Linked DNA regions of Homo sapiens: region 1 is linked to region 2. The links come from fine-mapping of genetic effects on gene expression. Tissue or cell type: blood mononuclear cells. Region 2 holds a variant in brackets; the other region holds the start of a gene. All regions are shown on one strand. Distances are from middle to middle. Region 1 holds the start of PCMTD1 (protein-L-isoaspartate (D-aspartate) O-methyltransferase domain containing 1). Region 2 overlaps PCMTD1-DT (PCMTD1 divergent transcript).

Region 1 (5,376 bases), 27 kb before region 2:
CCATTTCTTTTTTTTTTTTTTTTTTTTTTTTTGAGACAGAGTCTCACTCTTTTGACCAGGCTGGAGTGAAGTGGAGCGATCTTGGCTCACTGCAACCTCTGACTCGCAGGTTCAAGCGACTCTCCTGCCTCAGCCTCCCGAGTAGCTGGGATTACAGATGCCCACCACCAAGCTCGGCTAATTTTTGTATTTTTAGTAGAGACGGGGTTTTGCCATGTTGGCCAGGCTGGACTCGAACTCCTGACCTCAGGCGATCCACCTGCCTCAGCCTCCCAAAGTGCTAGGATTACAGGCGTGAGCCACTGCCCCCGGCCGCCACATTTCTTCCAACTATGTAGTTGCCACATCTAGTGGAAAATGAAAAAAGATTAATAAACCATATTATGACACCCTATTGTCTGTCATTATGCATTTTAAGTGACTACCAAATATTTTAAAATACCAATAATTACATAAGTAAATTTTAATCCTTTTAGACTTTTTTAGGGCCCTCTTGGTATTCTTTCCAGCACACTAATTTACAAAAAAGTTCAACTACGTTCATAAAAATGTTTACTGATATGAGACTATCCTTCCGAGTTTGTAAGCAATACGCAGCTGTGAGAGCTACAATTTACAATAACATCCCAATTTACCATGGCACCCAGCAGTGTCTAAAGTAACACAAATCCCCATCTTCTTGGTTAACAGCATAAGATCAAGGAGTTTAAAATTTTAGTAATATGCCACCAGAAACCTCATCTAAAAAAATACCATTATAGTTTCACACTATATTCTCTAGACTATTTTAAATGCATGTGATTACATTCATGTAGTTATTCTGTAAGGAACATTTCAAAGAAAGCAGAAAAAACCGTAAGGGCAACAATTTTTCGTTCATAGGAGGTAAAACAAGAGCAGAAAACACAGGTTCTTGGATTAAGCACTCCTGAATATAAACACGCACTATTACAAAAAAAAAAAAAAAGCAATGGGATCTTGAGCAGTTCTTTTACTCAAAGCCTCTATTTATTACTCTATAGAATGAGAAGAATGTCATTTATGTTGTTATGAGAAATATATGAGCATATTATTACCAAAAATAACTAAAATGTCATGGATTTTTTTATTCCTTTCGAGCACAGTTTCCAAATCATAAAATACTACACAATTTGGCTTAAAATTTCAGGCTATGCATGTTTAGAACCAGACGTTGTTCGTGATTATCTTCCTCAGTTGTTCTTTCCCTGGAAGCTAGCACCAAGATGAACACAGTACATTTTTAATAAATACAAGCTAGTGATTAAATCAACAAAGCCTCCAGCTCTTCTGCACACAGAAATACAGTATGCAATGGGAATTTCCTAGCTTTCTGTCTTACTTAATAGTAGGCAGTGTAGTATCACCCCTCCACTTCCAGTTTACTCCCTATAGCTTACTTACCAAAATATTTAATCCCTGTTGCTTTTTTTTTCTTGTCTCAGGCTAGGGCCACTAGCTTTCTATCTTTCCTACCTTACCTTTCCTTCACATATTAGCTACTTCATGTTAAAGAAATTACAAGTGTTCAACTGACCATATGGAATTAAAATTTACTTAGAAAAAAATGAAATAAAAAAAACCAAAAAGTAAACTAATTCAGCAACTTTATGTTTTATGGAGTCATCTAGCCTCATGTAAACTACCATTAAGCAATACGTAAACATATTAATCTGCTTAATACGAAAGTAATGTCGTCTGGCCGCAGACATTCTGAAAGTTTTGCCACATTGTTTCAAAATATTGGCTTGTAGCCCTTTTCAAAGCTACTGATTATTGAAAACTTGGCGACCATGTTTAACAATGAAGAAAAGGCTTCCCCAAGCCTACGTAGATTGGATTCTCTAATACATAGTAATAATGTTTTTTAAAATAATGAGGTGTGTAATAAAATGGAGGAATATCCATGATGCATTGTTGGCTAATAAAACGATATACTGTACTATATATGATCCCAATCTTGTTTCTAAAGCACACTCATTAAATGCACAGAAAAAAAAAATCCTGAATAACTACCCACCACACTTGGAGACTGGCTACCCTGGGTAGTAAGAAGGAGAAATATGGGGGGAAGGGCGCGAGAGAGGGCAGGTTTCCTCATTGTTTGGCTGCTTCATGTTTTTCTCAAGGAGCAAGCAGTACTTTTGTAATTAAAAAAATAAATAGGGGAAAAACACTGCTAAAAGCATACTTTTTTCCTCCGTAGCAAATTCTTCTGATTTGTAATGTTAAAAATATATCTCTGGTTTCTCGATTCTAAAAAGAGGACACACGAAAACAAAATTATAGAAGTTCCAAAAAATCTTGGATTTGCAAAATTACTCCCTCGGGTTCTGCCCGTGGGTCCTCCCCATGCCGGTGTCTGAAATTCCCCAAGCAAAACGCGGGCACTGCACTTCCCCGGAACGGTAGTAGACGCTCAAAAACACAAAAAGAGGCCTTGGCGCCTGCTATAACCTCTCAGTCCCCTCCCAGCCCCCGAGACTTCCCCGAGTCTACGTAGACTGGATTCTCTGCCTCCAAAACCAAAACAGAAGTCACTGGGCGGATCCAAAACGGCCCTAAGGGGCCCGCGGGCATCTCAAGACGCCAGCCTCGGGACTCTGGTCCCCAAGCCCAGGTCAGAGCCGAGGACGAGCCGAGGACGGGCCGAGGACGCGGCGCCCCGGCCTCCCTCGGGCCCCCGACCTCCCCGGCCCCAGGGACCCCGGCTCCCGACCTCCAGGCTTCGCTGGGCCCCTTTCGACTCCCCGACCTCCCAAGTCCTCCGCCCCCGGCCCGTCCTTCCCCCAACCTGCCCCGCAGCGCCTCAGTTTCCTGGCCCCCGACCTGCCCGCCCTTAAGTCCCCCTGCCCCCGACTCTTCGGCTGCCGTCCCCCTGGCCCTCTGGCCTCCAAGCGCATCCCAGTCGCCCGCCCGGCCCTAGCACGCGGGACTCGCACACCCCACGACCCCGAGCCCCCACTGGCGGCGGCGTTACCTGTGGCGCGGGCAGCGGCGCGCAGGCCAGGCGCTAGGACTCGGCGGGGTCCGCAGCAGCCAGACGCCGCTACCACCACAATAACAACACGGACGCCACCGCCGAGTGGAGAGGCGGGGCCCGGACCCGCGACTGGAGCAGCCAGAGCCTCCCGGACTCCGGAGCCGCCGGGGTCCGGGCATGCGCAGAGAACCACGGGCACAGGGGCAGCTCCCCGCGGACGCCAAAGTCAACAAGGCCGGGAGACGCCCCCATCTGGCCCCGCCCCCCTCAGGGCTCGCTCCGCCCCCAAGCCCAAACAACGCGAGGCCTTGACAGGCCAGAAGACGATGGCGGTAGGGGAGATCACGCGAGAGCATGGCCTCCACCTCTCCTCCCCACCGCCATCTCCACGTTCTCGCACCGGCGCTGGGGTGCAGGCTTTCAGTGGTCTCAGGGCTACGGCTTGTCGGTGCCTCGCCGCACAGTCCCCTTTGCATTGAAGGACACGGTCTTACGGTGTAGGAGCATTTTTGAGGTGCATTCCTGGATTTGGAGGCGAACCCCCAATGGTTACCTCCACAGAGGCTTTGCGAAGGGCGCTCACTGACTTAGGTGAAGAGCGAAGGCTCAAGACTGTGCCGCTTTATAGTGGCCCCTTGACGTCCAGAAGTTCCCCCCAGCGCCGGTCATAAGCACTCCCGCCGCCTGGGCCCCGCCCTGCCTGCCAGGCGCCCTCCAGCCTCAGCTCCCGGACGCCCGGCGTGGCCGCTTTCTCGCGTCTTGCTGACCCGGGCCGGGGGCGTGTGCTCCTCCTGCAGCGGACGGAAGATGCTGGGCCACGCAAGTTTCCCTGGGCTTGGTTAACCACCCCAAAGCCCATTTCCAGAAGGAAAGGGTGTTGAGGAGGAGGGATAGAAAGTCGAGAAGAGGGCCGGGTGAGTGGCTCACGCCTGTCATCCCAGCACTTTGGGAGGCCGAGACAGGCGGATCACCTGAGGTCAGGACTTAGAGACCAGCCTGGCCTACATGGTGAAACCCCGTCTCTACTAAAAATACAAAAATTAGCCGGGTGTGGTGCCGTGCGCCTGTAGTCCCAGCAACTCGGGAGGCTGAGGTAGGAGAATCGCTTGAACCCGGGAGTCGGAGGTTGCAGTGCTGAGATGGCACCTGGCCTGGGCGGCAAGAGCGAAACTCCATCTCAAAAAAAAAAAGAAGAGGAAATGAGGCATAGGGGCAGGCGAGCCGGGAAAATATTGCTACTAAGGATCCTAAGCAGTGAACATGCTGTTAATACTTGTAAGACTCCTAGCAAACTGCATTTAATTTTTTAAATTAGTTTTAGTGTACATAAAGGCATGTCTTTTCCAAATACTGTACTTTTTGAAGTGTTCTTTGTTGTTCATTAATCTTTGTGCGTTTCCCTTCAGTCTCTAATAGTAGGTTGTAGCATGATTTGCTTCCATCGTGTGAATTCTGTTCGGTTTTGATTTTCAAGTATGAGAGTGAGCGTAAGCTACCCTTATAGGTTACCTAAGGTAAGTTAGAATTAGAACGTCTTTATGCTAGGGTTACTACTCCCCACCATAACCAACCATCTGCAAAAGCGTTCAGAAAGAACATGCTAGCAAGGTCAAAAGCTTCAAATCACGAAATAAGAACTTGAAAACGAGCAAAATTGCTGCTGAGGCGCTCTGCCATTTAACTCAAAGGCTTCACTTTATTTAGGTTTAAAGTATGAGTGCATATTCAGTGGACATTGAGCTCCGAACTGTTCAAAATCTCTATTCATCTGCATTCTGGAGTAGAGCTGCGGGTCACATTATTAGCTCCATCTTTGGATTTCTGCCTGGACCCAGGGCACTCCTAACCGTTGTGGGATCATATAACAATCTTACAGGATGAATTTTCTGTTAGTCCAAGCAGAAATTTTGGCACATGAAAACTATCTTACCATAAACAAACAAAAAAAGTACAAATGGTAATCTAAGGAAAATAGCTAAAATCATTAAACAACTCTTACAGCCGTTTCCCCTGTTTTCTCTCCATTTTTTAAAAGCATATTTTCCTTTACTTTCTTCCTTCTGCTATGGGAATTTTTCAGGGTTCTAGACCTTTTTTCTCTTCTGCGGCTGGAAAGTTAAACACAGGTCATTTTTTAAATAAGACTGCTAGTAAATACCTTCTTAATAAACAACACCAAATGCTAGTCTTGTGGGTGAGTAGTTGAACAGCAAGTAAAGCACTCTATCACCTGTAATTTTCCTGTGGTAGGCACACCCCATCTCTACCTTCACGTAATTTCTGATTATGCCTCCATACCTTACACATATAATTCATTTGTGGGTGGGGGCGACAGAGTCTTTTGCTCTTTTGCCCAGGCTGGAGTGCAGTGGCAA
Region 2 (5,376 bases):
AAAAGATAGCTTACAGCTTGCAACTGTTAATGTGAAAAGAAGTAGGTTTTTTGTTTGAGTCTTTGTATTGTTGAGGCGCTTTGTAATGGTAGTGTCAACGAAAAGTCAAACTCTGTAAAATATTTAAAGATATTTATTCTGAGCCAAATATGAGTGACCATGGCCCATGACACAGCCCTCAGGAGGTCCTGAGAACATGTGCCCAAGGTGTTTGGGGTGCAGGTTGGTTTTACAAATTTTAGGGAAGCATAATCTATCAATCAAATACATTTAAGGAATACATTGGTTTGTTCCAGAAAGGCAGGTCAACTTGAAGGGGGCGGAGCTTCCAAGCTATAGGTAAATTTAAACATTTCTGGTTGACAGTTGATTGAGTTTTTGTCTAAGGACCTGGGATCAATAGAAAGCAAACATTCAGATTAAGATTGTTAGGGACAAATCACCCTGAAAGTGCTTCTTGGTACTGCCAACAACCCCCCTCTAAACTTCTCCGGGCTACCCCTCCCCTTCCCCTAAGACTTTTTACATTTCTAAGCCCTTATTTAGGCACCGTGGTGGAGCCAGCAGACCACTTATCAGACCTTGCTGCGATGAGCAAATCCCAATTACAAACCATCCAGACCACACGGGGGAGGTCGTGGGAAGCATAAGCAAAATTTACCTACACCCCCATGTATCATAAACATCATAAGGCGGTTTGTGGCAGAATTAACCAGCAAACAACCCCAGGGTCTCTCTGCCCCGTATAAACCCCTCATTTTTTAAGCTCAGGGCTGCCTCCTCTGTCTGTAATGGAGCAGCCGGCAGGTTGAATAAAGGTTTGCCTGAACTTGGGTCTCTCTCTCTTGTCCTTTCTCTTGGCTGACCTTACAAAGATAGAAGATTGTGGAAACCAAAGTTCTTTTGAAGTCTCATGGCGGCTCCCCTTAGAAACAATAGATGACAAATGTTTCCTATTCAGACCCTTTAAAGAGTGCTAGACTCTCAGTTAATCTATTTAGAATTGGAGGGGCCTGGAAGGAAAATGTCTAGTTGTGTTAATAGGGATTCTTTACAGATACGAATTTTCCCCCACAAAGGATGGCTTGCAGAGCTATTTCAAAATGTGACAAAAAACATGTTTTGCCGGTAAAATATTTTTATTTTCTCCCTTGTCTCATAATGTTATTGACAGAACAGGAGCATCGCCATCTTGGATGAGCACCACCATTTTAAAGTTCAGCTTGATCAAAAGCTGCCCAAATCCAAAGGGCGTCAGCCTAATGGCTAAGGTCAGCATGATCATAAAGCACAAATGACATTTATCACCAGAAACATTCCAAACATAAGATAAACCTGTCCCCGACCAGAGACATGCCAGCCCCGAGATTACCTCCCCTCCGGCTGGAGAGATGTCAGCCCCAAGATAACCCCCGTCCTGCCGGAAAGATGTCAGCCCCGAGATAACCTCCCCTCTGAGCAGAGACATTCCAACCCCACCATAAACTTCTCCCCTACACGGAAACATTCCAAGCTTGTGATAAGCTCTCTCACCCTAAAACCAATAAATTCTCTTAGTCTGTAAGAGATAGCATTCCTGACCAAAATCGGCCAGAAGCCCCTCTCAGGTTTATTCTCCAAAATAAATATGTCTTTGACTGTGGAGCCACTTTTCATGTTTCTTTCCACTTTCTTTAATTTACAGTTATGCCAGAATCAGGTTTGGAAAATAAGTCACAATATATAGGGTTAAATAAAACCTGTCTGATGAGAATCTATGGTTTGTAGGGCATGACTCCCTAGACACCTTAGATAGGAATTTGGGCAAGATAAAAAAAAAATCAGAGTTTAGTCATCAGTAGCTTAGCTTTTTACCCTAATAAAGTAAGTCTTAAATAAGTATTTGTTGAACAAAATGTTAGGGCTTAGAAACTGATACTCCAAGATATGGTAGTTTGATATGCTGAACTGAAGGAGCCTCAAGGTCTCTCTGACTCTCCCCTCTCTCTAGTCTCTCAATCCTCTGTCTCTCCCAAAACACAGGCTAAAGTTGTTCTCTGAAGTTCCCTTGTCTGCCCAAAGTCCAGACCTACCAAAGAAGAAAACAATTATCTCTGATTTCTTCCCTGAGTTTTCATTAACTGAACTTTTTACTGAAACACCAGGGATTCTGTCTAGGACTTGCTGCTCCATGTACAGAATGCCAATCACTGACTCAATGAGTATTGCCAGGGAAGAAGGCTTTATTGGGTGCTCAGTGGAGGAGAACAGGAGGTCAGTCTCAAATCTGTCTCTCCAACTGACCAAAATTGGGATGTTTATGATGCAGGATTTTTTGCTCCTTAGTTCACCTAACATCCTGGTTCTTGTTACATAACCAGGAAAAATTAGGCATGTGGAAACATTGAAAGGTGAGGAGAGCAGAATTTATTAAAAGAAAGCTCTCAGTGAATAAAAAGGGGGTCCTGACAGCAGGCTCCCACCTCACAGATTGAATATCAGGGCACCACACATACAAGCTGAGGAGTCCAGGCTCCTCCCTACTGCATAAGGTGCTGATCCCTGGTGGCTCCACCCCATACTCCCAGTGTGCAGGCAGGCCCCCAGTCCATTGTGGGCATGTCCAGACAAGGCCCTGGGCATGTTCCCCCTCTGCACAAAAGCATCTGATATGAACACTTGTGGGATGGATTGGAGATTCTCCAGGTAGCCTCCCTTATCTGCCTCCTGCATCTATCATTTATATAGAGGGGAAGGCAGGGAAAACAGAAATTAGGGAGGAGTAAGGAAGCAATTATGATGGATACGAGGTCTGGCATCTCATTGTCTGGATGCGGTGATCTGACGAGTTTTAGTCCCTTGCCTGAGGGTCAGTTTCCTGAAGAAGGAACACAGTTAAGACAAATATAAGTTTTAAATATTAAGATGGAGGGTCCATTTCTGTGTTATTCAAAAACCCATATATATCATTTCTATGAGACAGTTGGGCCTATTTCAAACTCATATCACAGGAAGCAAGAAACCATTGTCTGCCCTGTGGGCCCAAACA[A/G]AGTTTGTCCCAGGTTACTGAGTGTTTTTCAAGCCCATCGAATTCCCCTAAAACTAATTTACTACTCCCTAAAATAATCTACACTTTTCCATCGTCCTTTCCCCTAAGAAGAAAGGTATATAACCATCTGTATACTTTATGCGTGATGCAGCAATCACTCTGTGATTTCTCCTGCTCCCTGCACACTAATCAATGGGTATGCCATTTCTCCTATCAATCTGCCTTTGTCAGTTTATTTTCAGTGAACCTTCAGAGGTTGAAAGGAAAGTTTTCATTAGTCCCTACAGAATGAAAGAATGAATAATCGTATTTCCATTTATAGTTGGGGAAACAGAATAGAAACTTACAGGTGTTGCTCAAGGTCACCTAATTTTGGATTTAATCCCAATTCTCATTCCAAAGCCCATGATTTATTCTGTGCATTAACAGTTCATTCTTTTTTTAAAATAATTTTTTTGTGTGTGTTTATAGAGACAGTGTCTCACCATGTTGCCCAGGCTGGTCTCAAACTTCTGGGCTCAAGTGATCCTTCTGCCTCAGGCTCCCAAAGTGCTGGGATTATAGGCATGAGCCATCACACCCAGCTAGTTGTAACTTAAGCTTTAGCCACATGAAGACTACCAGAAGAGCTCCTCAGGTTGAGACAGAAATAATACAGGGTGGTCACAGGAGAAAATTCTAGGCAGCAGTTTCACATGGCTAGCCAAAGAAAACTGTTGAAATGGCTGCATGAGCTAGGGGATGAGAAAACCTGAAAACCAGGGAGTGGACCAAGCTTACTGAGACCAACTGGACCCAACATGGTGCTGGATTTGACCTAGGTTTTACCTAGGACCTCATTATATGCTCAGTAAAACATTAAATCCATTACCCACCAGTGCCATGACAGTTTTGGGAACATCTATATTTGGGGTAAAAATAGGTGGTACCGCAGTTCCAAGGAATCTTCACCTTTTTCCAGGAATCGGTGTGAATATTCCTTGGTTAAAGAAGTAGAAGCCTCAAACCCCATTGGGTGCTACTCTCTCTCGAGTACAGTTGCACTCCCTACTCCCCTTTCTTGATTACTTACTTCTTGCTTCGCAATAAATCCCCATAGCCTGCGAGGTCAAGGTTACAGTGAGCCTTGACTGTGCCACTGTACTCCAGCCTGGGCAACAGAAGGAGACACTGTCTCAATCCATCCATGCATCCATCCATCCATCCATCCATCCGGGTATTGCAAGGAGTTAAAAAAAACTCCCACACAAATTTAGGTTTTATTTTCAGATAAGCTCTTCTATCCATCCAGAATGAAAAGGTATCACAGGTTACTCACTTGAAGCTGCATCCTCCTTAGAGGAACTTTCACAGAAGCTGTGTCCCATCCTCCCTTTGCTGATTTGAAGCCCAAATTTCAACCCATGCAGAATCTTTTAGGGAAATTCTCAAGACCGTAATTATATTTTACCACTATAAAGGTGGACTGTAGTTTCTGCAGGTGACCACGTTGAAAAACATTTCTTCTTTTACTGAAAATTAAACTACTTCCTACGTATTCTTTGCAGAGAGGACCAAGAGCTGGCTCTGAGTCTCTAAGTCCCAGTAGTGTGGGGAGTGACAGCCTCCACCCTAGTGTCCTGGGCTCCACCCCCAGCAATTTGAAGTTGCAAGGTCTCAGACAGCACCCAGAGTTTTGGGGACTTCTTTTCCAAGTGTGAAAGGAGGCTCCTTTCCAATCATTATGTTTTAAATTTACTTCAGAGCTCCAAGGGACCACTGACAGAAGAGTTTTTTAATAGTCTTTTTATTTTTCACCCAGAGTAACATTTAAAAATAACAAGATATTTTATGCATCAGTTGCTTCACATCTTCTACTGGAGCAAACTTTTTGTTGGTAGTGTTTTGTTGTTGGCTGATGTTTCAAAGTTCCAAGAACTTGAGCCTCAAACCTCACAGAGAAGTGACTACAAAAATGTTCTTTCCTTATTTATCATGAGGCTAACAATAGTACCTACCTCACAGGCTCATCTAGAAGATTCCATAAGTCAACGTTGATTGTAAAGCACTCAGGTCACTGCCTGGCACATAAGGAGTGCCATTTATCAGTTTGTGAAGTGAAACCATGGTCAAGTTTTGTAGTGGCTGCTTTGCCCTGGCCAAGGGAAACTGCTGCTTTCTTTTATAGCTGTTAGTAGCATTAAATTGCAACTCTACCTTTCTTATTTAGGGGTACTAAGGGGGGAACTTCACTTTGTGACAAAAATATAACAAAATCTTAAGCATACAGAAGTGCTAGAACAAGGTGTAAAAACAAAAAGAACATCTGTATTAGTCCATTCTCACACCGCTATAAAGAACTACCTGAG

Evidence for each region. PIP is the estimated chance that this variant, and not a neighbour inherited with it, causes the effect.
Region 1: it holds the start of PCMTD1, and the variant in region 2 is fine-mapped to the expression of PCMTD1 in blood mononuclear cells (TOPMed, PIP 0.99).

The regions. Positions count from the first base shown.
Region 1 is chr8:51,895,932-51,901,307 of GRCh38, forward strand. PCMTD1 (protein-L-isoaspartate (D-aspartate) O-methyltransferase domain containing 1) reads right to left here and starts at 3,105. Exons shown (of 6, transcript NM_052937.4): 1 at 2,999-3,105. PCMTD1-DT (PCMTD1 divergent transcript) reads left to right here and starts at 3,384. Exons shown (of 4, transcript NR_189279.1): 1 at 3,384-3,915. RefSeq lists a silencer at 2,612-3,301 and enhancers at 3,342-3,631, 3,802-3,861, 4,162-4,221.
Region 2 is chr8:51,922,707-51,928,082 of GRCh38, forward strand. The region is part of intron 2 of PCMTD1-DT (PCMTD1 divergent transcript); the gene reads left to right. Among named protein-coding and RNA genes, the nearest start is that of PCMTD1-DT, 26 kb to the left of the region's middle. RefSeq lists an enhancer at 2,324-3,523. The variant A/G (reference allele first, on the strand shown) is at 3,029.